Regions from separate parts of the Homo sapiens genome. Here regions 1 and 2 are each linked to region 3. The links come from fine-mapping of genetic effects on gene expression. A gene starts in region 3. Each other region holds a variant in brackets. All regions are shown on one strand. Distances are from middle to middle. Region 1 holds the start of UPK3A (uroplakin 3A). Region 2 holds the start of MIR1249 (microRNA 1249). Region 3 holds the start of KIAA0930.

Region 1 (9,703 bases), 42 kb after region 3:
GAGGCAGAGGTTTCAGTGCACTCCAGCCTGGTGACAGAGTGAGACTCTGTCTCAAAAATAAATTAAAAAAAAATAAGCCACGTGTGGTGGCACATGCCTGTGATCCAAGCTATCTGGGAGGCTGAGACAGGAGGATCGCTTGAGCCCAGGAGCGGGAGGCTGCAGTGAGCTATGATCGTGCCACTGGACTCCAGCCTGGGCAACAGAAAGAGACCTTGTCTCTTAAAAAAACAAATAAACAAACAAAAAACGGAGATTAGGACACACACACACAGAGGAAAGCCCATGTGAGGACACAGGGAGAAGACTGCCATCTGCAAGCCAGGAAGAGTGGGCTCAGGAAGAACCCTTGATCTTGATTAGCCAGCACCTTGATCTTGGACTTCCAGTCTCTGGAACTGTGAGAACGTGAATTTCTGTGTAAGCCACCCGGTCTGCCTTACTCATTATATCAACCCTGGAACACTAATGCACCGTGCCAGGCAGCGGTGGCAGCATCAGAATGGAAGAGGTGGGTTCCAGAGTCACTGGGAAGATCCGTGTGCCCAGCACGCAGTAGGCACTCAACAAACACCTGTTGAGTAAGTTTGGATTCTACGTGAGAGGGGCCTGAAAGGAAAGAGATGGCCCAGAGGAGACAGGACTAGTCCAACAGAGCCCAGGGCTGTGGTGACACCTGGGGAATGTGGGGGACCCTGCCACTGCCCACCACCGCAGTCACAGGGCACATTCACACCCACGACTGCACTTCATCCCACCCCTCTGCAAGAGGACCCCTTGAGCATCCCCATCTTCCTGAAAAAGAAACCAAGGGTAAGGACCACCACAATGAGAATCACAGCCAGGGCTGAACACGGCTCTTCAGAGAGTCCTGTCATGCGCGGCCCCTTGGAGTCACCAAGGAGGGCATGTTCTGCAGGACGGGCAGCTGGAAATGTGGGTCTGGAGCTTGGGAGACAGGTGGGGGCCCCTTAGAGCAAAGTGGGCGTCCTCATCACAGAGTGAGGATAGACGAGTGAGCACCAGGCAGGGACTTGGGTTTCTCCACTGGGGTTTTTGTTTCTCGTTTTAAAGTGACTGAATCTCTGGTCGGGCACAATGGCTCACACCTGTAATCCCAGCACTTTGGGAGGCTGAGGCAGGTGGATCACCTGAGGTCAGGAGTTCAAGACCAGTCTGGCCAACATGGTGAAACCCCATCTCTACTAAAAAAAATACAAAAATCAGCTGGGTGTGGTGGCACGCACCTGTAATCCCAGCTACATGGGGGGCTGAGGCAGAAGAATCGCTTGAACCCGAAAGACGGAGGTTGCAGTGAGTTGAGATTGCCCCACTGTACTTCAGCCTGGGCAACAGAGCAAGGCTCCATCTCTAAATAAATAAATAAAGTAGCTGAATCTGAAAGCACTGAAAAGCTTGACTTCCAGAGTCCTGGGACAGAGCCCCCACAATGAAAGCCAGCACTTGCTGTGGTGGGATTCCTGCAACTTCTCTGACTTCTGAAGAGAGGAGTCATGGAAACCGACTGGACCCGGGCTCTTCAGTGTTTGGAGAGACATTTCTGGGTCAAGAATTTCCAGCCCATAAATTCCCCATGCTTCAGATTCAAAGGAGGTCTGTGAAGGGCTGGGCTTTGCTTAACCTTTCACATCGCAAAACTTCCTGCCTCTCTGGCCTCAGACAAACACATCCTCCAGGCCAGGGTTCAGAAGGACGGTCTGATGGATCTAGATGTATAAATGACCTCAAGTCAGACTGAATCTGAGTGCTCTAGAAGTGGCCTGATCAAAAAGGAAACATTAAAAAAAATTTTTTTTTAACTTTGGGCTGGGCACAGTGGCTCATGCCTGTAATCCTAGCACTTTGGAGGCCGATGCAGGAGGATCAGTTGAGCCTGGGAGTTTTAGACTAGTCTGGGAAACATGGTGAAATCCCACCTCTATAAAAATACAAAAATTAGCTGGGTGTGGTCGCCCCTGCCTGTAATCCCAGCTACTAGAAAGGCTGGGGTGGGAGGATAGCTTGAGCTCAGCGAGGTCGAGGCTGCAGTGACCAGGGATCATGCCAGTGCACTCCAGCCTGGGTGACGCAGAGAGATCTTGTCTCAAAAAAAAAAAAAAAAGAAAAAAACAAATAAACTTAGGAAAGTGCACGTGGAGCAGCAAGGGACACTGGCAGGTGTCAGGCCCCCTTTTTCTCCTGTTTCCCCTCCACTGACACAAGCAATGGTCTCTCCCAAGTGAATTTCCCACCATGACTCATTTCTCCTGTACTTCCCCCTCTTCAGAATGAGCCAAACAAAAGTCAGCAATCTTTGAAGTGGACATTTGTTTATAAATCTAAGATTTTTTTCTTTCCAGAACATGTTTTGGGCCTTTGCAGATTATTGTTTTAACATTTTCCTTCAAATGTTCTCCCCATATTTGGGCAAGGCAAGAGACAAGAGGACTTTTTGGGGTTTTTGTTTTTTTTTTAAAGAAACTGCAGCGTTTTGGAGAAAACAATTTCCTGGGCCTACTTCCTCTCACAGGTGATTCTGAGCTGGGCCTTTAAGATCAACCCTGCTGAGGCCAGGCACGGTGGCTCACACCTGTAATCCTTGCACTTTGGGAGGCTGAGGCTGGTGGATCTTGAGGTTAGAAGTTCAAGACCAGCCTGGACAACATGGTGAAACCCTGTCTCTACTAAAAATACAAAAATTAGCCAGATGTGGTGGTGCACACCTATAGTCCCAGCTACTTGGGAGGCTGAGGCAGGAGAATGGCTTGAACCTGGGAGGCGAAGCGTGCAGTGAGCCGAGATCGCCCCACTGGACTCCAGCCTGGGTGAGAGAGCAAGACTCCATCTCAAAAAAAAGAAAATCAACCCTGCTGGCCTCTGATAAACTGCAGGTTCACAACCAGGTTCACAAACAATTGTTGAACAAGAAATGTCAGTCTATAAAAATTCTTGGAAGAAAACCGCAGCCCTGTTCAAGAGTTCCTTACCTCTGGGACATTTTCTGTGTGCTGAAGATAAGGATCTGATCATCCGCTCTCTGCATGTCAGGGCTGAGAGGTGACCAAACTCCCTCCCCACTTTCTAGAAGGTAAACCGACACCCAAAGAGGGGAACAGTGCATTTCTGTGGCAGAGAACAGACTCTGTCCCCCAACATTTTCACTTTGAAAAATGTCAAACCTACAGAAACATTTCAAGAACACTACAGTAAATACTCATACTTATTTACCAATTGCTAACATTACACTAAATTTACTTTCTCTTTTTCTCTCGAATCTCATATATATGTTAGTTTCAGGTATCATGACACTTTATCCACATGCAAGCTGGGAGGATCCCTTGAGGCCAGGAGCTAGAGACCATCCTGGGCAACATAGTGAGACCCCATCTCTACCAAAAAAAAAAAAATCAAAAAAAACTTGCTCAGCCTGGTGGTGCATGCCTGTAGTCCCAGGATTGCTTGAGTCCAGGAGGTCGAGGCTACAGTGAACTATGATCTTGCCACTTTGAGCTATGATTAAAGCTGCAATAACAGAGCCAGACCCTATCTCTTAGAAAAAGGATAAAGAAAATCAGCAGAAACTAATTAATTTCTGTATGACGTTGATGACATAACCTCACTGGCAGAAAAAGAATAAAACGATCTGAGTAATTATAGAGCTGGGTTGTCCAGGGGTACCTCCTTAGTGGAGTACACTCTAAGAACTGGGAGGCCTGTGACAGAACCCCAAACCTCACTAGTGACTTTGTTATTGGCAGTGGGGAGGGCGGAGCCATTGTGAAGCAACTTTGGGTTATCCTAGGATTGGTGGTACCAGAACCCAGATTCTCACTGTAGGATGAGGGAGATTTGGAATGGAAGAAGGAAAATGCTGGTGTTTTGTTATTTGTAATTAGTTATGGAAAAAAATTACTAAAACAAGATTTTTAAGTGAAAAGAAAAGAAAAAGGCTGGCCAGGCACAGGCCTGTAATCCCAGCACTTTGGGAGGCTGAGGCGGGTGGATCACTTGAGGTCAGGAGTTCGAGACCAGCCTGGCCACATGGTGAAACCCCGTCTCTACTAAAAATACAAAAAAATTAGCTGGGCATGGTGGCGTGCGCCTGTAGTTCCAGCTACTCAGGTGGGTGGCTGAGGCAGGAGAATCTCTTGAACCCAGGAGGTGGAAGTTGCAGTGAGCCAAGATCACCCCATTGCACTCCAGCCTGGGCAATAGAGTAAAACTGTCTCAAAAAAAAAAAAAAAAAAAAGAAAGAAAGAAGGAAGGACAAAGAAAGAAGAAAGAGAGGAAGGAAGGAAGGAGAAAGAAAGAAAGAAGGAAGGAAGAAAGGAAGGAAGGAAGGAGAAAGAAAGAAGGAAGGAAGGAGAAAGAAAGAAGGAAGGAAAGAAAGGAAGGAAGGAAGGTAGAAAGAAAGAAAGAAAGAAAGAAAGAAAGAAAGAAAGAAAAAGAAAAAACTAGGTTCATTGAGACAGACCGAGAAGCAGTAATACCCAGTTGCAAGAGGCACCTTGCCACTGTTAGATCTTAAACTCCAGTCTCCAGTGAAAGGCACCAGTGCCCCTTGGAGAGATGGCTGAATCCAGAGCTGGGACAGGGAATGTCAAGAGGAGCCCGGGACATTTTATTGTGCCAGAAAGTAAAGAGGTTCTCAAAGAATGGTGGGAGCGTGAAAGCAGCTAGCACAGAGCTGCTGGAAGGAGCTGCCAACAGCCAGGCCTGGGAACATTTGAGCACAAAATAAATAATGGAAGTCATACATTCAGCTTGCTTTTTTTTTTTTTTTGAGACGGAGTCTCACTGTGTCACCCAGGCTGGATTACAGTGGCACGGCGCGATCTCAGCTCACTGAAACCTCCACCTCCTGGGTCCAAGAGATTCTCCTGCCTCAGCCTCCCAAGTAGCACTGATTAGAACTCACCGTCATGACCATGTCCTGCCCAAAAGGTTTAACTTGAATTTCATCAATAGGAAACCATCAGACAGATCCACATGCAGGGACTTTCTGCAAACCAGCTGGACTGGATGCTTTGCAAATGTTCACATCAGGAAAGACAGAAGCAAAACAAAACAAAAGGCTGAGAACTGTCTGATGGTTTCCTATTGATGAGATTCAAGTTAAACCTTTTGGGCGGGACATGGATGTCCAAGTAGCTGGGACTACAGGCGCCTGCCACCACGCCTGGCTAGTTTTTTGGGTTTTTTTGTATATTTAGTAGAGAAGGGGTTTCACT[G/A]TGTTGGCCAGGCTGGTCTCAAACTCCTGACCTCATGATCTGCCCACCTCGGCCTCTCAAAGTGCTGGGATTACAAGCGTGAGCCACCGCATCCAGCTGGGGAAAGATTTTTAGGGATCAAGGGCCGGGCGCGGTGGCTCACGCCTGTAATCCCAGCACTTTGGGAGGCTGAGGTGCGTGGATCACAAGGTCAGGAGATTGAGACCATCCTGGCTAACACAGCGAAACCCCGTCTCTACTAAAACAATACAAAATATCAGCCAGGCATGGTGGCAGGTGCCTGTAGTCCCAGCTACTCGGGAGGCTGAGGCAGAAGAATGGCGTGAACGTGGGAAGTGGAGCTTGCAGTGAGCCGAGATCACGCCACTGCACTCCAGCCTGGGTGACAGAGCAAGACTCCGTCCCCCCCAAAAAAAAAAAGAAAAAAAAGATTTTTAGGGAACAAGACATACATTAATCCAGAGATACCAACTTTACCAAATGATGAAATGGAACATCCCCAATAATGGGACACACTGACCTCATGTGCTTCCTTCCTCCATTCCAAATCTCCCTCATCCTACAGTGAGAATCTGGGTTCTGGTACCACCAATCCTAGGATAACCCAAAGTTGCTTCGGAATGGCTCCGCCCTCCCCACTGCCAATAACAAAGTCACTAGTGAGGTTTGGGGTTCTGTCACAGGCCTCCCAGTTCTTAGAGTGTACTCCACTAAGGAGGTACCCCTGGACAACCCAGCTCTATAATTACTCAGATCGTTTTATTCTTTTTCTGCAAGTGAGGTTATGTCATCAACGTCATACAGAGATTAATTAGTTTCTGTTGATTTTCTTTATCTTTTTTCTAAGAGACAGGGTCTGGCTCTGTTATTGCAGCTTTAATCATAGCTCAAAGTGGCATGATCATAGTTCACTGTAGCCTCGACCTCCTGGGCTCAAGCAATCCTGGGACTACAGGCATGCCCCACTAGGCTGAGCTAATTTTTTTTTTTTTTTTTTTGGTAGAGATGGGGTCTCACTATGATGCCCAGGATGGTCTCTAGCTCCTGGCCTCAAGGGATCCTCCTATCTTGACCTCCCAAAGTGTTGGGATTACAGGCATGAGCCTCCTTGCCCCTCTTCTGTTGTTTTTTTCCTATCCTTGTTGACTTACTTTTATTTCTTAAATGTAAAATTGATTTAAGGTGCATCCAGAGATGTGCACAGATTCTTGTGATGGAGGGAACCGCACAGTCATGGTGAGGAGTCCATCATAATTTTCAAACGCCCCTTTAAGAAGTAGGCATTAACACCCTGCTCCATCCCTTTGGAGGCAGCCCTGGGCTGAGCACTGGACTCCTGGGTTCCACCAGCCTCAGTGTCTCCAGGAGACCAAGCGCGGCCGGGGGTGAGTCCCTGTCCCCGCGCCCCCCACCACGCTCCAATACTTACCCCCTGCCCCACCCCCCAGCCTCCCGGGCCTTGGCTTGTACCTGTGAACCGAAGGGGTCATACTAGGCGTCATACTAGGGTCTCTGGATAGCTCCCAGGCCTGGACTTCGTTTTCCAGGATATCACCTTTACTGGTCAACCCATTTTGTTTCGCGAGTGCCCAGTGAGTGTTTGGCACGTAATAGAGCCTCCATAAATAGTTGTAGAAATTAGCGTCATTTTACAGTATGGAAACTGAGGCTCCAAGTGGGAGTGGCTTGCCCTCAAGGTCCCATTGGTGAGAGACGCTGTGGAAGGGCTGCCCTGGCCTGGGCACACAGTAGGCGCTTTGATGCGGGCTGGAGAAGGTCCTGCCCGGTGGGATTGCGCCCTGGGGCACCGCGCACGGGTCGGGGAAGCCCGGGGCAGGGCCGTATGCAAATAGCGCGCGAGGAGGCCGCGGATTGGCCAGCCCAGGCGGGGGCGGGGCGCGCCGAGGGCCCAGAGCTGGCAGGTGCCCTGGCAGGGACAGGTCTGGTGCCCGCGCCTGCTCGCTGGACCGCCCGCCCCGCGCTCTGGCGGCTCCTCCCGGGCGATGCCTCCGCTCTGGGCCCTGCTGGCCCTCGGCTGCCTGCGGTTCGGCTCGGGTAGGCGGTGAAGGGCAGGAGGGGGCTGAGCCCAGAAAGAGCGGGCAGCTCTGCCCTGGGGCGCCCGCCGCCTGGACCCTGATTCCTGGCGCTGGGGACCCAGATATTACTGTTATGAATAATAGTGATAGCCAACGTTTACGGGCCTCCTCTGTTGGGAATCCGAGGGCTCACAGATGGCTGCAGCCCTGCGATGTGTGTTGCAAGAGACCAACATGCAGGGGGGCTGCGGTAGGACAGAGAAGGGACTAGCCCCAGCCCCATGGTGACGCCTGGACGGGGGCAGATAGAGAGATATTTCGGCCGAGGAAGCAGCATGGGCAAGTTCATGGAGGGGAGACAATATTGGGCTGTCCTGGGAACTGCCAGTCCATGGGACCAGCTGGAGCCTGGGGTGAGGGGAGCCTGTGGGGGAAGGGGTGAGGCTGGAGACCGAACAAAGCAAAGCCCAGAACTTCAGGACCTCACTGCCTTTCCAGAGAGGCTGGACTTCGTCAGGGGGCGCTGGGGGACCATGGGAGGGCCATAGCCAGAGAATGAGGCAGTCAGACTTGCATGTGGGGGGAGGGCCCAGGTGAGGAAGGTGGGACGGAGGAGGGCTGGGCCGATGGCATGGAGAGATGCTTAGGAGGGGCAGTGGAGTTCTTGGCAACTGAGTGTCTGCAGCAGGGAGAGAAGGCAGCAGTTTGGCCCGACCGCTCCATTTCTGAGCAGGATGACTGGGCAGGGGGCAGTGTCTGAGACAGCTTATGCGGTGGCCCAGGGGGAGGGTGAAGCCCAGGGCCTGGCACACAACACGTGCTCAGTAACTGCAAGCAGAGTGGGTGTGGACAGTTCTGCCGGAGGTCAGTTCCCATCCTCACTGCCTCCTCCAGCTGTGAACCTGCAGCCCCAACTGGCCAGTGTGACTTTCGCCACCAACAACCCCACACTTACCACTGTGGCCTTGGAAAAGCCTCTCTGCATGTTTGACAGCAAAGAGGCCCTCACTGGCACCCACGAGGTCTACCTGTATGTCCTGGTCGACTCAGGTAAGGGTCCTGCTTCCCTCTGGCTACTCCAAAAGGGGCTCTGACCTGTCTGCAGGGAGGAGGGAAGGAGGCAGATAGAGGAACCCTCCATGCCTGTAGTCGTCTCATTAAACAGGTACTGCAGCCACAGACCTGTCCTTGCCTTGCAGGGACATCCAGTTAGTGAGGGAAGTAATAACACCACCAGTCACTGAACACCTACACCATACCAGGCACTTTGCACACCATAGAGCTAGTATCTACAACCAGCTTGTAAGGTAGCTATTACCAATCCCCATTACAGAGCAGGGAAGCAAGGCTCAGAGAGGTGGAATAACCCCCCCTGGACCTCCCAGGGCTGGAGAGTGAATCCTGATCTCTCTAGTCCCCAAGCCCAAGGTCCTTCCTGAGGCTTCGAAAGGTGGCTCAAGATTGGTGTTTCTGAGACAAAACCATGCATTTGGACCTGCTGCTGTGGCCCAGCCCCAACCCCTGCCCTGGAGGGGATCCTGAGCTTCTGAGACAAGCCAACATCAACTCTTGCATTTCTAGCAGCCAGTCATTTACAACAGCTCATTCGGGACCATCCTTTTCTTCTTTCAGCATGTGTTTATTGACTATAAACTAAAGTGCCTGATCTCCGGGCACTGTAGGGAATTTCTCTCCCATTTCATAGAAGACTAGGGTCTGAAGAGGTAGAGTGAGTTGTCCAAGGTCACCCATCTAGTAAGGAGGAGAGCTGGGTCCTGCCTCCACGTTATTTCCCTTGGACCGATGACCTTCCTTTCCCATTTTACACAAGAGAGAATCCAGGGCTTTCAGCAATGAAGAGACAAAGGTCTGTTGGGATGGGGGGTTGCAGGAATGTCACAAGATAAGGCGAGAGTCAGACACAGCGCCCAAAGCAGGGAGGTGATCCTTGTCCATCTCCCACATTGCACTGAGAGGGCAGAGACTAAGTTTGCCCCATGCCTGTGATGCCAGTGCCCAGCACAGAGCTGGGGCAGAAAGGATGATCAGGCATTTGATGAATAACTGAGTGAGTGTCGCTGAGCCGGAGTGGCCAGAAGCCTGACTCCCTGCACCGCCTCTGCAGCCATTTCCAGGAATGCCTCAGTGCAAGACAGCACCAACACCCCACTGGGCTCAACGTTCCTACAAACAGAGGGTGGGAGGACAGGTCCCTACAAAGCTGTGGCCTTTGACCTGATCCCCTGCAGTGACCTGCCCAGCCTGGATGCCATTGGGGATGTGTCCAAGGCCTCACAGATCCTGAATGCCTACCTGGTCAGGGTGGGTGCCAACGGGACCTGCCTGTGGGATCCCAACTTCCAGGGCCTCTGTAACGCACCCCTGTCGGCAGCCACGGAGTACAGGTGGGTGTAAACAAACCACTACAGGAGAGCC
Region 2 (9,404 bases), 40 kb before region 3:
AGTTCATCCGCACGGCATTCCAGAATCTTCCACCGGCTTTCCTCAAGAACATGTGGACAGTCCAATGCACTGAGTGCCCTGGCTGGGTGGTTCCGCCTGCTGCTGGGGGGACGTGAACATAGACCCGCCGCTCTGGCCCCGCTCTGGGCATCAGCTGCTCCTTCCGCTCTCTCTCATGGCCGCTCGGCATCTCTAGTCCTCTTTGGGTGCAGAGGGCTCTCCAGAGATGGGTGGGGGGCGATGGGCGGGGGGCACAGGGCGGAGCAGCGCCAGCAGGGGAGGGAAGAGGCACTTCAGTTTGGGCTGGTGTTCGTGGAGTCGGCCCCGGCCCCGGGAGTCGAGTGGCCTCGCCTGGCTGCGGCTCCAGCACTGGCGTGCCATCGCAGACCCCGGTGGCGGTGGACAGGTAGGCACTTGGCAGCACTCCGAGGGCTGGGCCCGGCCGGGGCTCTGCGCAGGCTCCGCACGCGGCTAGGTCATCAGGATGGGCTTCTGCCGAACTTCCAGGATGTCTAGGGCCGGCAGGAGGGAAGCAGGTGAAACAGTAACCCTCAACAGCGGTGAGTGCTATGGTCACGGCAGTGCCACTTCTGAAGGAAGCCCGCCTCAGCCACTCATGCATCTCCTCTCCAGGCCTCACAGACTGCAGAGGAGACGTGTCTCCACCATCCTCACCCTGCAGACTGGGAAATGGGCTCGCAGCAACGGCACACCCTGCAGGGCCTCAGGTGCAAGCTGGTGTGGGGGCCAGAGCCACTGCCTGTCACAGCTGCTGCAGGCCTGGGTCAGCGAGGTGGCCTGAGAGCCTCCCCTCGCCCGTGAGTAACACACACCTGGGCATCTGTGGCCACTCAAGAGGGGACAGCAGGTGCGCCAGAAAGGTGAACAAAGGGAGGACTTCAGCTCTGGGAAAGCTACGGCTCCACCCAAAGTCTGAGACAAAGAGGCCAAGAGCCCTGCAAAGAAACCCAACCAACCGACAGGACAGGGCGGGATGACTCCGGGTGGCTCACAAGTACCAAGGCCCTGGAGGCAGAGCTGGCTGTGAGAAGGTGCGGCTGCTTCCCCACATCCGCCAGCATTACCTGTTAAAATCCGATGCAGCGGCAACGTGACGTAGGTTAAGTGTGCATAGAGAAGGAAGTTTCCATCTGCTCTGTTCAGCTTCAGCCAGGACCCGACCAGGGACCGTCCTGTGCCCGACAGGGACCGAGACCGCAGGTTGGTTGCATTGTGCAGATCGGCTGGAGGAAAGAAGGCCAGGTCAAGGCCCCCACAGCATGGGACGCGGCGGGAGCAGCAGGAGGCCAGCTCCCAGTCCAGGCTGAGGCCAAACTCTGCTGAGGCCAGGACGCTCCTTACCAACACCCCCACACCAGCACCCACACGCTCCAGAGCTGCTGCCTCCTCGCCTGTAACACCCCTCCCTGCTTCCTCTGGCCCAGACCCAGGCCTCCAACTCCAGGAAGACTTTGGCCACCCCCCTCATCTCTCTCTTCTCTGTCACAAGCTTAGTCTCCTCCGGGGGTTCTGGCACACACACTGTGTAATTCTCTGCTTCTGCAGGCCCTGTCCCTGGAACTAGGCACCGCCACCTGCAGAGCATGGGAGCAGCAAGGCTGAGCCGACCTGCACCATTACCCAGTCCTGCGGTCCAGGCTGGGGGAACCTGCCCCAGAGAGGCAGACTAGGGCAGTGATCAGTACTTCTTACTGATTCGGGAACGGGCCCAGGTGGGGAAGGGGCTTGCCCAAGTTCACACAAGAGCAGGTCGAGGCCAGTGCTGGAGTCCCTGACCCAGGCCAGGGCCTTGAGCAGGTGGGACACCCCTGCTTCTTGGTCCCAGTGGTCAGGACAAAGACTGCCACCTCTTCTGATCAATGCTGCAGCCCTGCTCCCTGCTGGGGGAGGTGCTCAGTGGGAGTTGTCAGCGAATCCTTCACGTCGTTTTTTTTTGTTTGTTTTGAGATGGAATCTCACTCTTGCCCAGGCT[C/T]GAGTGCAGTGGCACGATCTCGGCTCACCGCAACCTCTGCCTCCCAGGTTCAAGAGATTCTCCTGCCTCAGCCTCCTGAGTAGCTGGGATTACAGGCGCCCACCACCATGCCCGGCTAATTTTTTGTATTTTTAGTAGAGACAGGGTTTCACCATGTTGGCCAGGCTGGTCTCGAACTCCTGACCTCAGGTGATCCACCCGCCTCGGTCTCGCTAAGTGCTGGAATTACAGGGGTGAGCCACTGTGCCTGGCCAATCCTTCACTTCCATACACTCAACAGACACGCACACAGTGCGGAGCCAGGCGCCCGCTGGGTCCTGAGGATGACAGTGAGGAAGGCACGTGGTCCATGCCAGCAGAGCATGGCAGAACTTCCCAACCTGTCTGTGACGGCCACGCCTGTCCCCAGGAGCCATTTCCCACAGAGACTGCTGAGTGGCATTTTAAATATGCTAATCTGATTGTGTCACTCCCTTGCTTAAAACCCCTCAGAGGCCTCCCTGGGGGCTCTGGGAACAACTCCTGTATTCTGGAAGGTCACTGAGCGAGGACAGGGAGCAGGCACGGGTGCTCAGGAGAGAGTGCAGACTGTGCCTGGGCAGGACTAAGGGGCATGGTAACACCCAGATACAGACAACCGGAGTCCAGGGGACAGGGGCACAGGAAGGCCCCGGGGGTAGGCTGCACGAGGTGGCGACTGTGTCACCAAAGAGCACGTGGTTCTGGGAGGCTGCACAGAGCCAGGAGGGCCAGGCCTCACCCTGAGGGCGAGCTGGCCCAAGGCAGCGCAAGGGAGGGAAGCCCTCCTCTCTCCCGCCACACCCCGTGTGTGCGGAGCCATCAGATCACCCATCCGCTTTCTTCCTTAAGCAGGCTGAAAAGCCTTAGAAAGGTGGGAAATCCCCTGAAACTGACCAACTGCTGCACATCTGCGCTCCAAGCACTCTGCCAAGGAGACGCCTGAGCCCACCAGGACGGGACCCCCAGAGGCAGCCATTTCTGCCTGTCCCCAGCTCTACCCCTCAGCTCCTGGAGGGCTGCCTGGCACATGGCACCCACTCTCTAAGTGCTGCTGAATGAACAAATGAATGAATGAATAAATGAATGAATGACTGGTCTGGATCAAGAAGAGACTGAAGGGCACGGGGACCCTAGGGCACGGAGTGGGGGGTCACCTCCACCGTCGTCCTCCCGGAAGAACTCCTCGCTGTCGTTGGCCGAGTGCGACTTCTTCATCTCAGCGATCCGGTTCCGGGGCACCTTCCTCTTGAGGGATGGGGAGAAGAAGGCAGGCCGGTTGTTCCGTTCTGGGGTGGGGGGTGTGCTGAAGGAGGTCACCTGGGAACAAGCAGCCAAAGTCACCAGAGTAGCAGAACAGCCCCCTCCCCGGGGGTCCCAACGCCCCTCCTATCCCACCCTCAAACAACCTGACACAGCTCCCAGGGAAGAGGCCGCTGGCCCAGGAGGACCCAGGCCCAGCCGGCCCGTGCTAGGTGGGGCCTAGAGACTGGAAGATGCGTTCCAGCCCAGGGGCCAGCAGGACACCTGGCCACCAGTGCTACCCGAGGAGGGGCCAGGCTGCTGCCGCAAATGGCAGAAAGACCCCCCTCCTCTGGGCCTCAAACAGTGGGTAGGGGGTGTTCAAGCACAAAGTAACAACAGCTGCTGACGCTGAGTGAGCACTGGCCCCACACACAGACCCTCTGAGCCTCCAGCTCCGTGAGACAGGGGCTAGCGTCAGCCCATCTGACACATGGGGAAACTAAGGCAGGGACCGAGACCCTGGCTTGCCTGTGGTCACCAAGCAGGACGGCAGCAGCCCTGTCTTCTGTCCCCCAGGGCCACGCTCCTCATCCTACTTCTCAGGGCTGACGTGGCCCCATCCCTCTCATTCCCAGCACCCTTCACAGGAAATACTGTGCTAAGTAGCTCTATGCCTCTGTCTTCTCCCCACTTCTAATCACGTTTGGTTCTGTTCACCAAACATTCACACCCACTCAGGGCCAGGCAGGCACAGCACTAAGGACAGACAGGCACATTGCAGGTCCCTGCCCTCAAGGAGCTCACAGTCTGCTGGGGTGACAGACTCAGAGAGTGACAACCATAGACAGCATGCTGGCTGTGGAGACAGAGAAAGAGAAGCACAGGATACATGAAGCACAGAGGCAAAAGGGATCCACAGCCTGGGAAATCAGGGAAGGCTTCCTGGAGGAGATGCCGCTGGAGCTGGGTCTTGAAGGACGAGTAGGAGTTCGCCAGGTGAAGAAGGGGGGGAAGGGCGTTCCAGCCAGAGGGAACTTGGCCCATCTCCTCCCTCCTCCCCATGCCAACAATAATCTGAGGAGCAGGATGAGCTGGGACTGAGACTTCGGGAGCCCCGTCAGCCTCCTCGTCACGGCTCCGACATCCACCAAAGTCCTGGCAGCTGCTGGGCTCCAGACGGTGTTCCCACAAGCCGGGGAAGGTTTTTAAAAGATAAAAGAAACAAACAGCAGCAACCACAATACACAGAGTCAGCATGTGTCACGCACTGGCTCCAGACGACCCCGCCAGAGAAGGAGACAGGTAATAGCAGGCGCACAGGCGGCAGTCCCCAGGGGCCAGCCCTGCTGCTGACCCTGTGTGACCCTAGCACATCCCTCCTCCTGAATCCCAGGGCTGCCCAGCTGCTAAGGCACCAGGGACTTTCACACCCCTCACAGCCACTCCCGCTGGACAGATGGGAAAACCAAGGCTCAGGCAGGTCTAGTGACCTGTAGTCACTCAGCCCTCAGGCTGTGGCTGGAGGTGGCACCCGGGTTTGTCCAGCCCAGAGCTCGGGCCACATCTTCGTAAGGACTTTCACACACACATTTTGTCAGAGTCCCAGGGCATAATTTAGGACCAGGGAGAAGAACCAGGCCCTTTATCTCGGAAACAAACTCAGAAATATAAACCACCTCATTCCAAAGACAAGAGAGGCCCCTGCCTGGAATTCTCACCCATCTTTGCAAAAAATAGCACTTGCTGTCTTTGGCTTGCAAAACACATTCATTGCAGAAGATACCTCCCCCCCAAAAAAAGATATACAGAAGAGAAAGAAAACCAACATCTGACCACCCGGAGATATGCATGATTCAGATCTTTCTCGAACTAAAAGTATAACAAACGCACACTCCCTCATCTCAGGCATGCCTGCGGTAATGCATCGTTTACATTCCCACGCCTCTGCTTTCCAAGTAGGTCAACAGCAACTACTGCAGCTGCCACCTGGGAATCCTCCTGAGGGCCAAGCCCCGGATTCCTCAAAGCCTCCCAAATACTGAAGGAGCAGGTATCCTCGTGCCCTGTTTCTAGATGAGAAAACTGAGGCTTGGAGAGGAAAAGAGACACACCCAAGGTTATGAGAGCAGCAGAGCAGGATTCTGGCTGTGGGTGGCGTCTCTCCTGGACAATGGCTGGGCAAGACTGCCCCTGGACCTGTGCCAAGGGCACCCCCCTGCCCAGCACACCTGTACTCTTCCAAGAACTACAGCTCTGGGCAGTCCCTCTGGAAGAACCAGGTAGAGCAAAGCAGCCAGTGGGCTGGAGACCTTCTCCTGCCTGTGCCCCACCAAAGGCTTCTGGGAACAAAGCTGCTGCTGACCTCAGCCTCCCGCCCTGGGGAAGGAGAGTGGCCTAGGCAGAGCAGGGCCCCAAGCCCAGTGCTATCCCAAGAGACCTTGTGACCTGGGGCAAGCTGGCAAGTCTGGTTTCCGGCTGTGCGAGGCAGGAACGCCTCTCCTGCAGCAGAACCTCCTACAAACCGCGGGGCAAAGAGCTGGGTGGCCTAGGCCTCTGCATGCGCTGGCTGACCCTCAGTCACCATCATCCCCATCTGACTCACCGGGGAAGGCCGGCCACGTGCCCACGCTCACCCAGCAGGTCCACCCAGGCAGGCGCCAGGGCCGGGCCTGGGTCCCCAGCCAGTCTCTTCTGCCCACTGGCTCTGTGGACTCAGCCTGGCTTTGTGGCATCTCAGGGAGGCAGAAAGAGCTCTGGCCCAGCACCAGCCTGCGGTGTGACCTTGGCCAGGCACAGCCCTCCAGGTCTGCAAGGCAGGAACGCCTCCCCTGCGGCAGTGCCTCCTACAAACCGCTAGGCAAAGAGAAGGGCTGGGTGGTCCGGGCCTCCGCACGCTCGGCACCTCGGCCTGCGCACTGGTGGTTGGGGATGACAACACCTATGTCCCCAGGGGGCCGTGAGCACGGGGGAGACGGTGGAAAGTGAACTTGACGGATGGGAGCCCCCGCCCCCAGCTGTGCAGCCCTTACCCGCTCGTGCATGGGCGAAGCTGGGCTGGAGTCCTCTTCAGTCCCACAGGGGGATGTGTCACCTGTAGACACTCGGCTGACCGCCATCTCGGCGTGGCCCTTGCCCTGGGGGCCCTTCATGCGCACAAACTCCATGTTGCTGTACTTGTAGAAGCCAAACGACATCTTCTGTGCCATGCGGGCGGCCACGCTCACCTGGGGGCCGGCGCGGGGCAGCCTGAGTCAGGGAGGTGGCGATGGCTCCATGGGGCCCCTCCCCAGGACATGAACAGCCAGGGCGACCATCCCTCAAGGAGCGGGGGCTGCCCGGGAGGGAGCGTCTGAGCTGGCAGGCGGGGCAGCTGGAATGGACCCACATCTCTGCCTGGTGCCCCTCCTGGTGCCCCTCCCACCGCCCCATGAACCACGGACCAGGCTGAGGACAGGGCCCCAGGCTGGCAGCAAGGCTGGCTGCGGATGGTGCCCGCTGGGGGAGAGGGGCCTGCCCACATCTGCTTGCTTAGTTGGGGGCGACTCGGAGCACTCCCAGGGCCAGTCGCAGGAAGCAAGTGACAGTGAGGAGGTGACAGCGACACCATCAGCCATCACTTCCCAGGGAACTAGAGACTGAGGAGGAAGTTCCCGCTCACATTTCAGATGAAGGCAAGTGGCCCGCATGGGCTGAGGCCGACCATGAAGAATGACGTTAAGAGGACCAGGGAGCGCCTAGAAGGAGCCCGGAGGGGCTGCAGGTACCCCTGGCGGCCGCTACCATGCACAAGCAGGCTGGGGGGCCCCATGGTATGGACCACGGTGGGCTGTGGAGCCGCCGTCCCCGGGCCCAGAAGAACACCCGTGAGGCCGCCCCGCACTCACCCGGTTGTCATACACCTTCTTGAGCGCCTCGTAGCGGATGGAGCCCTGAAAGATGACCCCCTGGAACGTGTTGGTTTTGTCACTAGCCACCAGCTCCACACAGACCATCTCTCCTTCCCCTACGGTCATGTCGCTGAACACCTGGGCCAGGACACAAAGAGACAGGGACGTGACCATCAGCTCCCACCGCCCACACCACAGCCTGGCCCAACTGGCAGGGAGGGCTGCTCAGAAAACCCCATTTTGCAGGGGACAACCGGCTGTCACACACTCCTGTGGCCCCATGCCCTCCGAGCCCCACAGGACAAGAACAGCCTCACACTGGGGCAGGGGCTGAGCAGCAGGGGAGGACAGGGACGCTTACGGAGACTCTGGGACTGGCAGAAGACGCACACCCTCATCACGGTTCACCAGGACCGTCAGCCACCGTCTGGGCCCCTCCACACCGCCTAGGGGTGCCCAGCCCTGCCTGCCACATCTTTGAGGCTCCTGTGTGGCCAAAGGCTCAGTGTGGTGGCAGGGTGACTGCCCACCTGGGGTGACAACACCAGACTAAGGTGCCACAGGCCCCATCCTGCCACCTTCCCGAGTCATTGCTCCCAGGACCTGGTGCACAGACTGTGAGCTCCGAGGCCACAAAGACTTAGACGCAAATCTCAGCTCTGCCCTCTAGGAGCTACGTGTGCCTGGGGAGGGGACATGACCTCCCTGAGCCTGCGATTTTCCTGCAGACGCCCACGCCTTCCTCCTAAGTCCTCAGGGCCCTGAGCACCTTGGATGCGCACAAGGACCCCGACCAGGGCCTCAACAGAGGAGAGACACAAATGGGCAGAGCAGGGAGTGAGCTGCGACCGGCTCCCTCCCCGCCCTCCCAGTGCCCTGTGTTTCTCGGTGAGTCTCCTTCTGCCCAAGCCCGTTTCCCAAACCTTAAAACAAAGGCTTGGCCCAGATAACTCCGGAAACCCCATCCCTCTTTGACATCCTAGGATTCCAAGTCAGTGCAGGCGTGGAGGCGCTTCTTTATCATTTACTAGCATTAATAATGGCTCCTCCCGCCCGGGCAGTGCTTCTTGCAAGAGTTTATGAGGCGTCCTCCCACTCAGGAGCCTTTTAGTCTTCAGCCCTGACAGTAAGTAGGACAGATGATCATGACACTGATTTTACAGAGGAGGAAACGGAGGCTGCGCCGGGGAAATTCACCTGCCCACAAGCAAACACTGGGAAGAGAGAGAGCCACATCTGCCTCAGCCGGACTCTTCCCGGCTCCAAGCCACCCATGCCTTTCTGCAAGGCTAAGGCCGCGGGGAGAAGCGCCTAACACCCATCTCACGAGAAGGGGAAGCTAAGGAGAGAGGCCCTGTGCAGAGCTCACCTCCTCGAAGCTGTCAATCATGAAGAAGATGTTGGGGTAGCTGATCTTGGACTCCTCCCCCTTGCTGTCCATGGGGTGTTTACTGGGGGACGCGAACACTTGCTGGAAGAAAGCAGATTTGGAGGACAAGTGAGGCCCCACCCGGCACACAGGCCCAGAGCCAGTCCAAGCCAGTATAGGGAGGCCACCCGGCCCAGAGCCAGTCCAAAGCCAGAGACCTACCAGGAGATGTGGGGGATAAGCTGGTTCTGTGCTCCTCGAATGGGATACGGGATCCCAGGAGCTGAGCAGATTTCTGGAGTCAGACCCCTCACCTCCAGGGCAGAGAAGCAAGCAGGAGGACTTGTCTCTCTCTGCCACGCCCAGCCTGAACTGGCAGTTAGGAGGCTGGGGGCTCTCGTGCCAGGGCTCACCTGAGATTTCTTCTTATGGATGTGAATGTCCCCGCCGTCAGCACGTGTGCACACCGCACAGGTCACCATGTAGTCCAGCTGGAAGAGAGCACGGGTCAGCGTGCAGGGAGGGGTCAGCCATCCCACAGGGCCAATCCGCAGCCCCACCCATCCCACCCCATACCTTCTGCAGGATGAGATTCAGGCAGACGCTCTCCTCCCAGTCGATGTCAGGGTCTCCCAGGCCTGGCAGCTTCTTGGAGTCCCGCCGGTACACCTCCACCTCCACCTCAGGCTCAGCTGCCTGCGAGGCCCAGAGCAGAAGTGAGTGCCCAGGGCCCACTGTGGTGCTCTTCTTCTTCCCTGACTACTATGCAGGCATTACGATGGACAAGGACTCCAATTCTTTTTTCTTACTATTTTTTGAGACAGGGTCTCACACCGCTGCCCAGGCTAGAGAGCAGTGGTGCAATGACAGCTCACTGTAGCCTCAACCTCCT
Region 3 (9,703 bases):
CCAGCTACGTGGCTGTGGGTACATCCCTCCCCACGCTGAAGCTCAGCTTCCTCACCTGCAGAATGAGGTCAAGACAGAACCCACCTCTCCGGGAGCAGGACTGAAGGAAACGCGGCAGGTGTTAGGCACCGGCTCGCGGCAGGCACGCAGCATCCTCTGCACTGATGGCCCCTCCCGTGCAGCCGCCCCACAAATCACACCTGCAGGGCTTCCCGAGGCCAGGGCTGGGAAATACCAAGTTCTGAGCCAGGGATTACTCCAGCCTCGACTTATACAGCCCTGCTTAGAGCAAAGTGAGCTTCTGCTCCTCCATCCACACAAGCCCATCCAGCCTCAGCCCTGCTTGAAGACTACGCTGTCCACAAACCCCTCCCATGGGCCACGCTGGTGGCTCCATTCTCTGTGGCCTCTGGCTAAGTGTTCACAGCTCCACTGGGGTCCTGCCTCCATCCACTGTGGCCAGGCTGCCACACAACCTGGAACACCATACCCTCAGCACCCTGAGGACGGGTCTAGGTGGGCCTCACCTCTGCGCAGGGTTAAGCAATTAAGAGCTTGGGCTCAGCAAGATTCGGCCACTTCCTAGCCTTGCAGCTGGGGGCACCTTACTTCCCCCCAACCTGTGTTCCCTCATCAGGACAAAGAGAAGAACAGAACAATGTCTAGCCCACAGGATTACTCCAAAGACAAAAGGAAAGAATGAACATAAAATGCCCCTTCTCTGCACCACTCCGGACACAGGGAGAATCCCTTAGCCCCAAATGCCAGGCACAAATTGCTCCAAGAATGCTCAGCTGAGGCAGGGCACAGAGACAAGCAGCCGGATGTGGGTCCCACCTGCTCACGGCACCTCTCAGGACTCACACCAGGTCTTGGGCCCAGGTCGCGTCCACGTTACCTGACCAACTGTCGGGTGGGCTGCCCCTGTTGAAAGGGAGCCTGTGTGCTTGGGCTGAGGCCCAGGGCCCAGGAGAAGGCCCAAGCCCCGGGAAGAAGTGGCAGGGTTTGTCCCCCTTCAGTCCAAATGTCTGCATCGCACACCTGGGTCCTGAATCACCTGGTTCATCTGTGACCTGGAGTCATGAGCAGTGTCCTGTGGATGCAACACCAAAATCTTGCTCCGGGCAGCCGCAGCCCCACTGCTTCCAGCAGGGTTTGTACTTCAGCTAACAGTGACCTGTGCTCCTGGCTGTCTCCCCCATGGACTGTGCCCTCCCACAAGGCAGGGATCAGGGCCCAACACTCCCGCCCCCTCTCAGTACAGAGCAAGTGCTCAACTCCCCTTCTACTGCAGAGGCTGCCACAGACAAGCCTCAAAAGCCAGATGTGAAATCTACAAGGTGCCTTTCATCACGAGAGCTGAGCGATGACCCCTGAGTGAGGAGGGCCAGGAGCTTAGTCCCATCTCAGAGACAGACACTGACTCAGAGAATGACAACCACTCAACCAAAGCCCAGCGCCTCCACCTGAGGCTCCCTTGACACCTTCAAAACAACGTCAGAGGACACAGCAGGTTTCTGAGTAACCCAAGCTTTTGCTAAACAACAACAAAAATCTGGGAGATTTAAATTCATTCATAAATCTAACAGGCTGTCACAGAGGTGAAGTGGAGATGATCAAACACAACCCTGCCCCCACAGCTTGAGAGTGTTGATGATTCAGTGGACGCAGAAGTGCTCCGGGGCTGGTGTTCTGGCTCCTCTCAGGACTCACACCTGAGAGGTGAGAGGTGCGCTCCACTCTGGGCATCAAGTTCCTAGTAAGCTCACCCCTCGCTGAACATCAAATCTCTCATCTGAAAAATGAGCCCTTTTTTTTTTTTTTGAGACAGAGTCTCACTCTGTAGCCCAGGCTGGAGTGCAGTGGCGTGATCTCGGCTCACTGCAACCTCCGCCTCCCGGGTTCACACCATTCTCTTGTCTCAGCCTCCTGAGTAGCTGCGACTATAGGCGCCCGCCACCACGCCTGGCTAATTTTTTTTTTTGTATTTTTAGTAGAGACGGGGGTTTCCTCATGTTAGCCAGGCTGGTCTCAAACTCCTGACCTCATGATCCGCCCGCCTCAGCCTCCCAAAGGGTTGGGATTACAGGCATGAGCCACCACGCCCGGCCAAAAATGAGGCCTTCTAAGAAGCTAAGATTCCCATCTCCGTGGCCCTCCACGCCCTTCATCTGCCAGTCCAGATAATAATTTTCTCACTTGTTCACTAAATGTTTACTGGGCACCTGCTCCGTATGTGCCCCATGCTGGGCACCAAGATGAATCAGACTGGGTAATGCCTTTGAAGGCCTCACCTGCTAACTGGGGAGACAGCACACAGACCATGACAAGGCCACAATCATCCTGATTGTCCCAACAAACATGTGCCTGGCACAAAGAGAACACAGGCAGAACAGGACTGTGTGCCTGGGAGCTGGAAAGAGTTCCCGGAGAGGCAACACTGGAGCTGAGACTTAAAGGAAAACTTAGAGATGCTTGTGGGGCACATGAGTAGGGGCGGCTTTCCGGGCAGAGAAAACAGCAGGTTTTCTCTGCTTCAGAGCCCTGCAGGGACTGAGTTCAGCAGCAGGGGAAGAGGGGAGACCTGGCACGTGCGGGAGGCCTGGAGAAGAGACAAGGAAACAGCGTGAGTATCGTAGGCACATAAAGACCTGGCTGGGGATATTCAGGGAGTGGAGGGCAGGCTCTGAGGTCAGGCTGGCAGAGGGTCAGTCCCGGCTATGCTGCTATGCTGCTTCCTCATTGGTTGTCCCTGGGCAGGCTCTCTCTCTCTCTCTCTCTCTCTCTCACCCTCAGGCTCTTCATCGCTGATATGGAGATAATACTGCTCCCTGGCAAAGTCAGCATTGTGTCAGGATTAAATTTGCAGCATGAGTAAAGCACCCGGCACATAGTAAGTGCTCAGTAAATGCTAGGTGCCATTTTCACTGTTCACTGTTCTTCTGGGAATGGCCCTGCAGCCTCCTTGCGGGAGGGGCTGCCTAGAAGAGGAGAGAAGGTGCTCACAGGTAAAGGTGGTCAGAGGACAATAGGTGTGTGTGGACAGGGGAGTGGGGAGGGACTGCTTGAAGCTGCTGAGCAAACAGGGCCAAGTGACCTGCAGCAGATGGTCCTTCAGATGCATCCCAGCTCAGATATTCGGTGCCAGCTGACAGGTGGGCCTGCCACGGTGGCACACAGTAGGTGCTCAATGAATGTTTGCAGAATGAATGAATAAGCACGCTCCAACTTCTGCTCAAAAGTAAATCTTGACACCTTTTCAGAAAGAAACCATTGAAACCTTGTCAACCATTGAAGTTCTTGTCCATTTCACTTCATAAGCACCCCCCACCCCACCCCTGCATGAGGAAAGGCTCGCCTGGGCAGGCTAGGCTGGGGCCTGCTCACTGGGAAGCCTCCCATGCTAAGCCTGCCTCCTACAAAAGGGATTCAAATTTACTTCCTCTCTCCACTCCAGCCTCCAGGGTGTGGCCTGCTGAGGGGCCCTGAATGCCTGGGACTGCCATGTCCCTGCAGCTGTGTGACCTTAGGGGGATGCACTTGTTCTCTGGGACTCAGTTTCCCCAACGGTGAATGAAGGGGTGAATCTGGAAGGCTGACATTCCGTACTCAGCAATGCTGTCACCCCCTCAGAAATCCCCAGCCTAGCCTGGGGGTGGGGTGGGGGGTGGCTGACAATGTGGTATGAAGTCATTCCCTGCACGGAGGAGGGAGGGGTCTTTTCCATGGAGAAAATGACGAACCTGAGACGACAAAAGAGGGGGCTTCTCCTGGGCTTCAGTCTGGGCATGATCCATCAGTAATGGATTACCTCACTGGCTGGGAGACCCCACCCACACCTGCAGTCCCAGGCCCTTCCAAACAATACGAGGCACCCCCATCCCACGCCCCCCAGCAGATCCATGACTTAAAGCCCAGAATCACACCGAGAGGCAGCAGGCCCTGCCCCTCAGCCAAGCGGGCGGGTTCGGGGGGCCATTGCCCAACAGGTCCCTGGATACAGCTAAGGGATGAGAGGGGCCGGTGGGTGCGGAAAGACAAAGGCTTCGGGTAGCAGGAGACAGTGGCCAGGGCACGCTCGCAGCGAGGTCCACCCAGAGCCCAACGAGGGCCCGACCCTGCCGCGCTGGGCTAAGGGTGTACCCAGATCCCACGCCCACACTCCCTACCGCGGTGCTGAGGGCCCGGGGCGGGCTTCCTGGAGAAGGAAGAAGACCCGCAGAGACACGAAGAAGAAGGAGGAAGATGAGACAGACACCCGGACGGACTGACAGGGGGAGACGCCGAATGAGACCCGGGCACAGGGGTGCGGGGCGCTCGTCGGACGGAAAGCAGAGACAGACCCAGATGCAGGGACGGTGGGGGGGGGGCCATGGAGGAAGACAGGGTACCCAGGCAGACCCAGAGACCACGACACCCGCGCAGAGACAGAGATGCGCGGGGCGCACAGAAACACGGACGCGCAGAGGCGGCCCCGGAGACGCTCACCTCTCCCGGCCCGGCCTCGCCCCCGGGTCCCACTCACCGAGGCCGCAGACCTCGCGGCGCAGGCTAAGACGGCCGCGCTCCTCCGCTATGGCACGCAGCATGTGCTGCAGCGAGCGCTCCTCGGCCTCGGCGCCGCCCGCAGGCTCGGGGGCGGCGGCGGCGGGGAGGGCGGGCGGCCCGGCCCGCAGCCCGCCGCGAGCACCAAGGAAGCCACAGTCCGCCTCTGTGCGCGTCGCCGTCGCCGCCGCCGCCGCCACCACCCGCCAAACACAGCACCGGCGAGCGCACCTCCGCGCCGCCGCCGCCCGCGCGCCCCCGGCTCCGCTCGCCCCGCCCCGGCCCGGCCCGGCCCCGGTCCGGCCCCGCCCCTTCCCCGCCCCGGCCCCGCCCCTGTCCCCTCCCGCCCCGCCTCTGAACGGCCCGGACCCACCCCGGCTCCCTGGCCCCGCCCCCTGACCTCCCTTGCCCCGCCCACTTCCAAACGGCCAGTCTCCGCCAATCTTCGGATGCCCAGGACAGCCTCCCTCAAACCGCTCGCGGGGTCCCGCCTCCACCCAAGGTCCTAAACGCCCCACCAACGGGATCACGCCTCTGAGCCCCTCCCGCCGCCCCTTCAGGGCACCTCTCCCCTCCCCCGCTGCTACCCCACGGGATGTGTACTTTGTCACCCGCCCTGTGCGTTGCCACCTCCACCAAGTCCCCTCGGCTGACTTCTGGGAACTTCCTCCGCAGAACCCCTCAAGAGGTCACCTGCTCCCAGAAGGTGGTCTCCTGGGGGACACCGTGGCAAAGCCCTTCCGGCCCCCCTCCTCTGCACCTGGCACAGTGCAGAGTGTTGCGCCTCCATTTCCTCAGCTGCACCATGGGGGACCTTTCCCTGCCTTGCCTCCCCAACATGGGGGAGTGTTGATGAAGGGGGAGGTATGAGGTTAGCTGGGCGTGTCATCCTGATGAAGCCAGGTCTGGCCAGCATCCCTCCGTGTGCTAGTTGTGGCTGATACAGGAAGACACCGGAGAAGCAGCCAGTGGCCTCCCCAAACCTCACGCCTGGTGGTCCATTTCCAAGAACAGGGGGAGATGGAGAGACCAGCATTGATTTCCAGGTCTCTCCAAAGCTAAATCTACATCACTCCCTGCATTCACAGCCTGTGTGTGGACCCCAGACCCATCAAGGTCCCCCTTTCCCCTGTCTGGAGTCCTCTTCTCCCCATTCCTGTGTAACTTGCTTCCTTTGTGTCCCGAGTGTCACATCCTCAAAGAAACTCCCCTGACCGCCTTCCCTCCCTCTCTCTTCCCTTAGTCTGTTTCTCCTTCACAGGGTGACACTTACCTCCTCCCGACACATTGGATACCTATGGGTTCACTTGTTCTCTTCTCTACCGAGGGAGGGGCCTGTCTACTACACAGCTGTTGTCTCAGTACCCAGAACATTGCCTGGCACACATTAGATGCCCAATAAATAGATATGGGCTGCAGGCTGGGCACAGTGGCTCATGCCTGTAATCCCAACACTTTGGGAGGCCGAGGTAGGTGGATTGCCTGAGGTTAGGAGTTCCAGAACAGCCTGGCTAAAATGGTGAAACCCCATCTCTACTAAAAATACAAAAATTAGCCGGGCATGGTAGCACACATTTGTAATCCCAGCTACTCTGGAGGCTGAGGCAGGAGAATTGCTTGAACCTGGGAGGCGGAGGCTGCAGTGAGCCGAGATCCCGCCACTGCACTCCAAGCTGGGAGACAGAGCAAGACCCTGTCCCCCCCCAAAAAAAAAGAAAAGAAAAGAAAAAAAAATGTAGGCTGCATAAACGAAGAATGATGGAGAGGTCTGATGGGGACGCAGGGGTCTTCCTGGGAGGCACAGCAGGAAGGAGCCGTGGGGTTGGGCAGAGCCCCAGAAGGGAGATGGGATCTGGATCCTGCTTCAGGCCTCTGCCCCAGTTTTGTGCCACTGGCCCCTGAACTCTTCAGAGCAGAGCCACATCTGACCCCTCTGTGTCCCCAGTGCCAGGCCCAGGAGGGCTCTGTAGAAAGGTGAGCAGTGAGGGAATGAAGGAAGTGCGCGACCAGCCTCACGTGTATTTCTCTTCTCCAGTGGGCCTGCATCCCTGTCTGTAAAGTGAGGACACTGGCATGAGGGCTGAGGCCTCTGGTTCTGCGTCTGGAGAGCTGGGGTTTGGGCTGGTGGACGTGAGAACTGGGGATGGTGGATCAGACAGCATGAGCGAGTGCTCCAAGGCTGTCAAGTCCAATAGTCACATCCCTCTTTGCCTCCCCAAACCCCACAGCACCCCCTGCCTGTTCCCACTGCCATGCGTTTGCCCACAGTGTTCCCTTGGCCTGAAATCCTTTCTGCTCCGCAACTGTAGTTGCCTTTGGGACCCACATTGCCTGGTTACGCTTGGCCAATGCATTGTGTTCTTATTTGCTTCACAAACCCCCTTTCCCCACCCCACCCTCCTGCACACAGTTGCCTCCGTGTATTCTGTGTCATATGACCAGCATTGAACCAATTCATCCCACTTCCCGTGGCACCCAGCCCAGGACTGGTGCCAGAAAAATATCTGTTGAATGAATGAGTAAACAAACATCGCTTGGGCTCTCTCCTTTGTATTTCAATAATACTCCAGGTATTACCTATACACAGAATTTTCTTTCTTTCTTTTTTTTTTTTTTTTTTTTTGAGGCGGAGTTTTGCTCTTGTTGCCCAGGCTGGAGTACAATGTCGCGATCTCGCCTCACCGCAACCTCCACCTCCCAGGTTCAAGCAATTCTCTTGCCTCAGCCTCCCAAGTAGCTGGGATTACAGGCATGTGCCACCACGCCCGGCTAATTTCATGGAGATGGGGTTTCTCCATGTTGGTCAGGCTGGTCTCGAACTCCTGACCTCACATATACACAGAATTTTCTAATGTCAACAAATGCTAAATCACACTGTGCATGGGAAGAGGGCAGGAGCAGGACTTCTGGGGCTACAGAGCATGTTCTGTTTCTTGATCTGGGGGCTGGTTACACGGGTGTGGTCAGTTTATGAAAATTAAAAGGCTGCACAGCTGGGCATGGTGGCTCACGCCTGTAATCCCAGCACTTTGGGGGGCCAAGGCGGGCAGATCACCTGAGGTCGGGAGTTCGAGACCAGCCTGGCCAACCTGGCGAAACCCCATCTCTACTAAAAATACAAAAATTAGCTGGGCGTAATGGCACACACCTGTAGTCCCAGCTATTCTGGAGGCTGACGCAGGAGAATCGCTCGAACCTGGGAGGCAGAGGTTGCAGTGAGCCGAGATTGTGCCACTACACTCCAACCTGGGCAACAGAGCGAGACTCCATCTCAAAAAAAAAAAAAAGTTAGAAAATCAAAAGGCTGTGTGCTGTGGTTCAAACCTGTAACCACAGCACTTTGGGAGGCCAAGGCAGGCAGGAGGCTGGCTTAGGCCCAGGAGTTTGAGACCAGCCTGGCCAACATAGCAAGACCTCATCTTTACAAAAAAAAAAAAATTAGCCAGGTGTGATGACACACGTCTGTGGTCACAGCTACTCAGGAGGCTGAGGTGGGAGGATTGCTTGAGGCGGGGAAGTCAAGGCTGCAGTGAGCCGCGATCACACTGCTGCACTCCAGCCTAGGCAACAGAGTGAGACCTGGTCTCAAAAAAAAAATATATATATATGTATATATAACATATATATATGTAATATATATAATATATATGTTATATATGTAATATATGTATGTAATATATATATAAAGCTGGCATTTTGTAATTATTTATGCACTTTTCTGTATACAAATATTCAGAATATAAAATAGAATTGAAAGTATATAGGCAGAATAATGGCCCCAAAATGCCCACACCCTAATTCCTGTGCTAATTCCTGTGAATATGTTGCCTTACCTGGCAAAATGGACTTTGCTGACGTGATTTTTTGTTTGTTTGTTTTCGAGACAGGGTCTCACTCAGTTGCCCAGGCTGGAGTGCAGTGGCACGATCTTAGCTCACTGCAACCTCCACCTCCCCAGCTCAATCCATCCTCCCACCTCAACCTCCTGAGTAGCTGGGACTAAGGGTGTGTGCCACCACACCCGGCTATTTTTTGTATTTTTTGGTAGAGACAGGGTTTCACCATGTTGGCCAGGCTGGTCTCGAACTCCCGACCTCAAGTGATCTGCCCACCTCGGGCTCCCAAAGTGCCGGGATTACAGGCATGAGCTGCCACATGGGGCCTAAGAGTACAGACACTGAGATAGGGAGACTATCCTGGGTTATCCAAGTGGGCCCAATCTCATCACATAAATTCTTAAAATCGGGGAACATTTCCTGGCTGTGGTCAAAAAGAGATGTGACAACACAAGAATGGTCAGGTAAATGCAATGTTGCTGGCACTGAAGAGGGAGGAAGGGGCCACAAGACAAGGCATACAGGCAGCTTCCGGAAGCTGGAAGAGGCAAGGAAACAGATTCTCCTACAGTTGCCCCCAGATATGACACAGCCCTGCCTGCACCTTGACTTTAGCTCAGCAAGACCTCAGTTGAACTTCTAACCTACAGAACTGGAAATGTGTTAAGGCAATAACGTTGTAGTAATTATTACAGCAGTGATACCAATACGTGGGCAAGCCTGAGATGTGGGCATTGTGTCAGCTCTCCACCTAAGCGCTTCTATCCCTGAGGTTTATTTTGCAAACACTTAGAACAACAATCAAGCAAAGTTTAGCAGAAAGAAAAAACAACCACAATCCAATTGCTTTAATAGGTCAGTCTTGCTTCATTTTTCAGAGTTCCTGCCCGGGGTTTGCCTAATGCCATCCCTCTACACTATTGTAACAGCGGTGTCCGACAGCACACATTTTTATCTCCAAATGCTTGGGGCTGATCTTATTCAAAGAGCCAGACAGTGTTTTTTTGTTGTTTTGTTTGTTTGTTTGTTTGTTTTTTTGAGACTGAGTTTCACTCTGTGGCCCAGGCTGGAGTGCAGTGGCGCGATCTCGGCTCACTGCAAGCTCCGCCTCCCGGGTTCACGCCATTCTCCTGTCTCAGCCTCCTGAGTAGCTGGGACTACAGGCGCCCGCCACCACGCCCGGCTAATTTTTTGTATTTTTAGTAGAGACAGGGTTTCACTGTGTTAGCCAGGATGGTCTCGATCTCCTGACCTCGTGATCCGCCCGCCTCTGCCTCCCAAAGTGCTGGGATTACAGGTGTGAGCCACTGCGCCCAGCCACC

Evidence for each region. PIP is the estimated chance that this variant, and not a neighbour inherited with it, causes the effect. A credible set is the group of variants that fine-mapping cannot tell apart.
Region 1: its variant is the best candidate, but not a certain one, in a credible set for the expression of KIAA0930 in whole blood (TOPMed, PIP 0.74).
Region 2: its variant is the best candidate, but not a certain one, in a credible set for the expression of KIAA0930 in whole blood (TOPMed, PIP 0.65).

The regions. Positions count from the first base shown.
Region 1 is chr22:45,277,780-45,287,482 of GRCh38, forward strand. UPK3A (uroplakin 3A) reads left to right here and starts at 7,170. Exons shown (of 6, transcript NM_006953.4): 1 at 7,170-7,286; 2 at 8,162-8,317; 3 at 9,393-9,672. The coding sequence starts at 7,235. RefSeq lists a silencer at 6,991-7,300. The variant G/A (reference allele first, on the strand shown) is at 5,232.
Region 2 is chr22:45,196,705-45,206,108 of GRCh38, forward strand. KIAA0930 reads right to left here. Exons shown (of 10, transcript NM_001009880.2): 3 at 9,089-9,208; 4 at 8,926-9,003; 5 at 8,513-8,614; 6 at 7,141-7,281; 7 at 6,286-6,480; 8 at 3,169-3,331; 9 at 1,086-1,244; 10 at 1-512. The coding sequence ends at 472. It overlaps MIR1249 (microRNA 1249), which reads right to left and starts at 4,315; the gene lies at 4,250-4,315. RefSeq lists an enhancer at 5,623-5,767 and a cis regulatory region at 5,695. The variant C/T (reference allele first, on the strand shown) is at 1,994.
Region 3 is chr22:45,236,115-45,245,817 of GRCh38, forward strand. It overlaps KIAA0930, which reads right to left and starts at 4,780. Exons shown (of 10, transcript NM_001009880.2): 1 at 4,526-4,780. The coding sequence starts at 4,589. RefSeq lists silencers at 4,354-4,443, 4,594-4,653, 4,814-4,873, 4,904-5,103.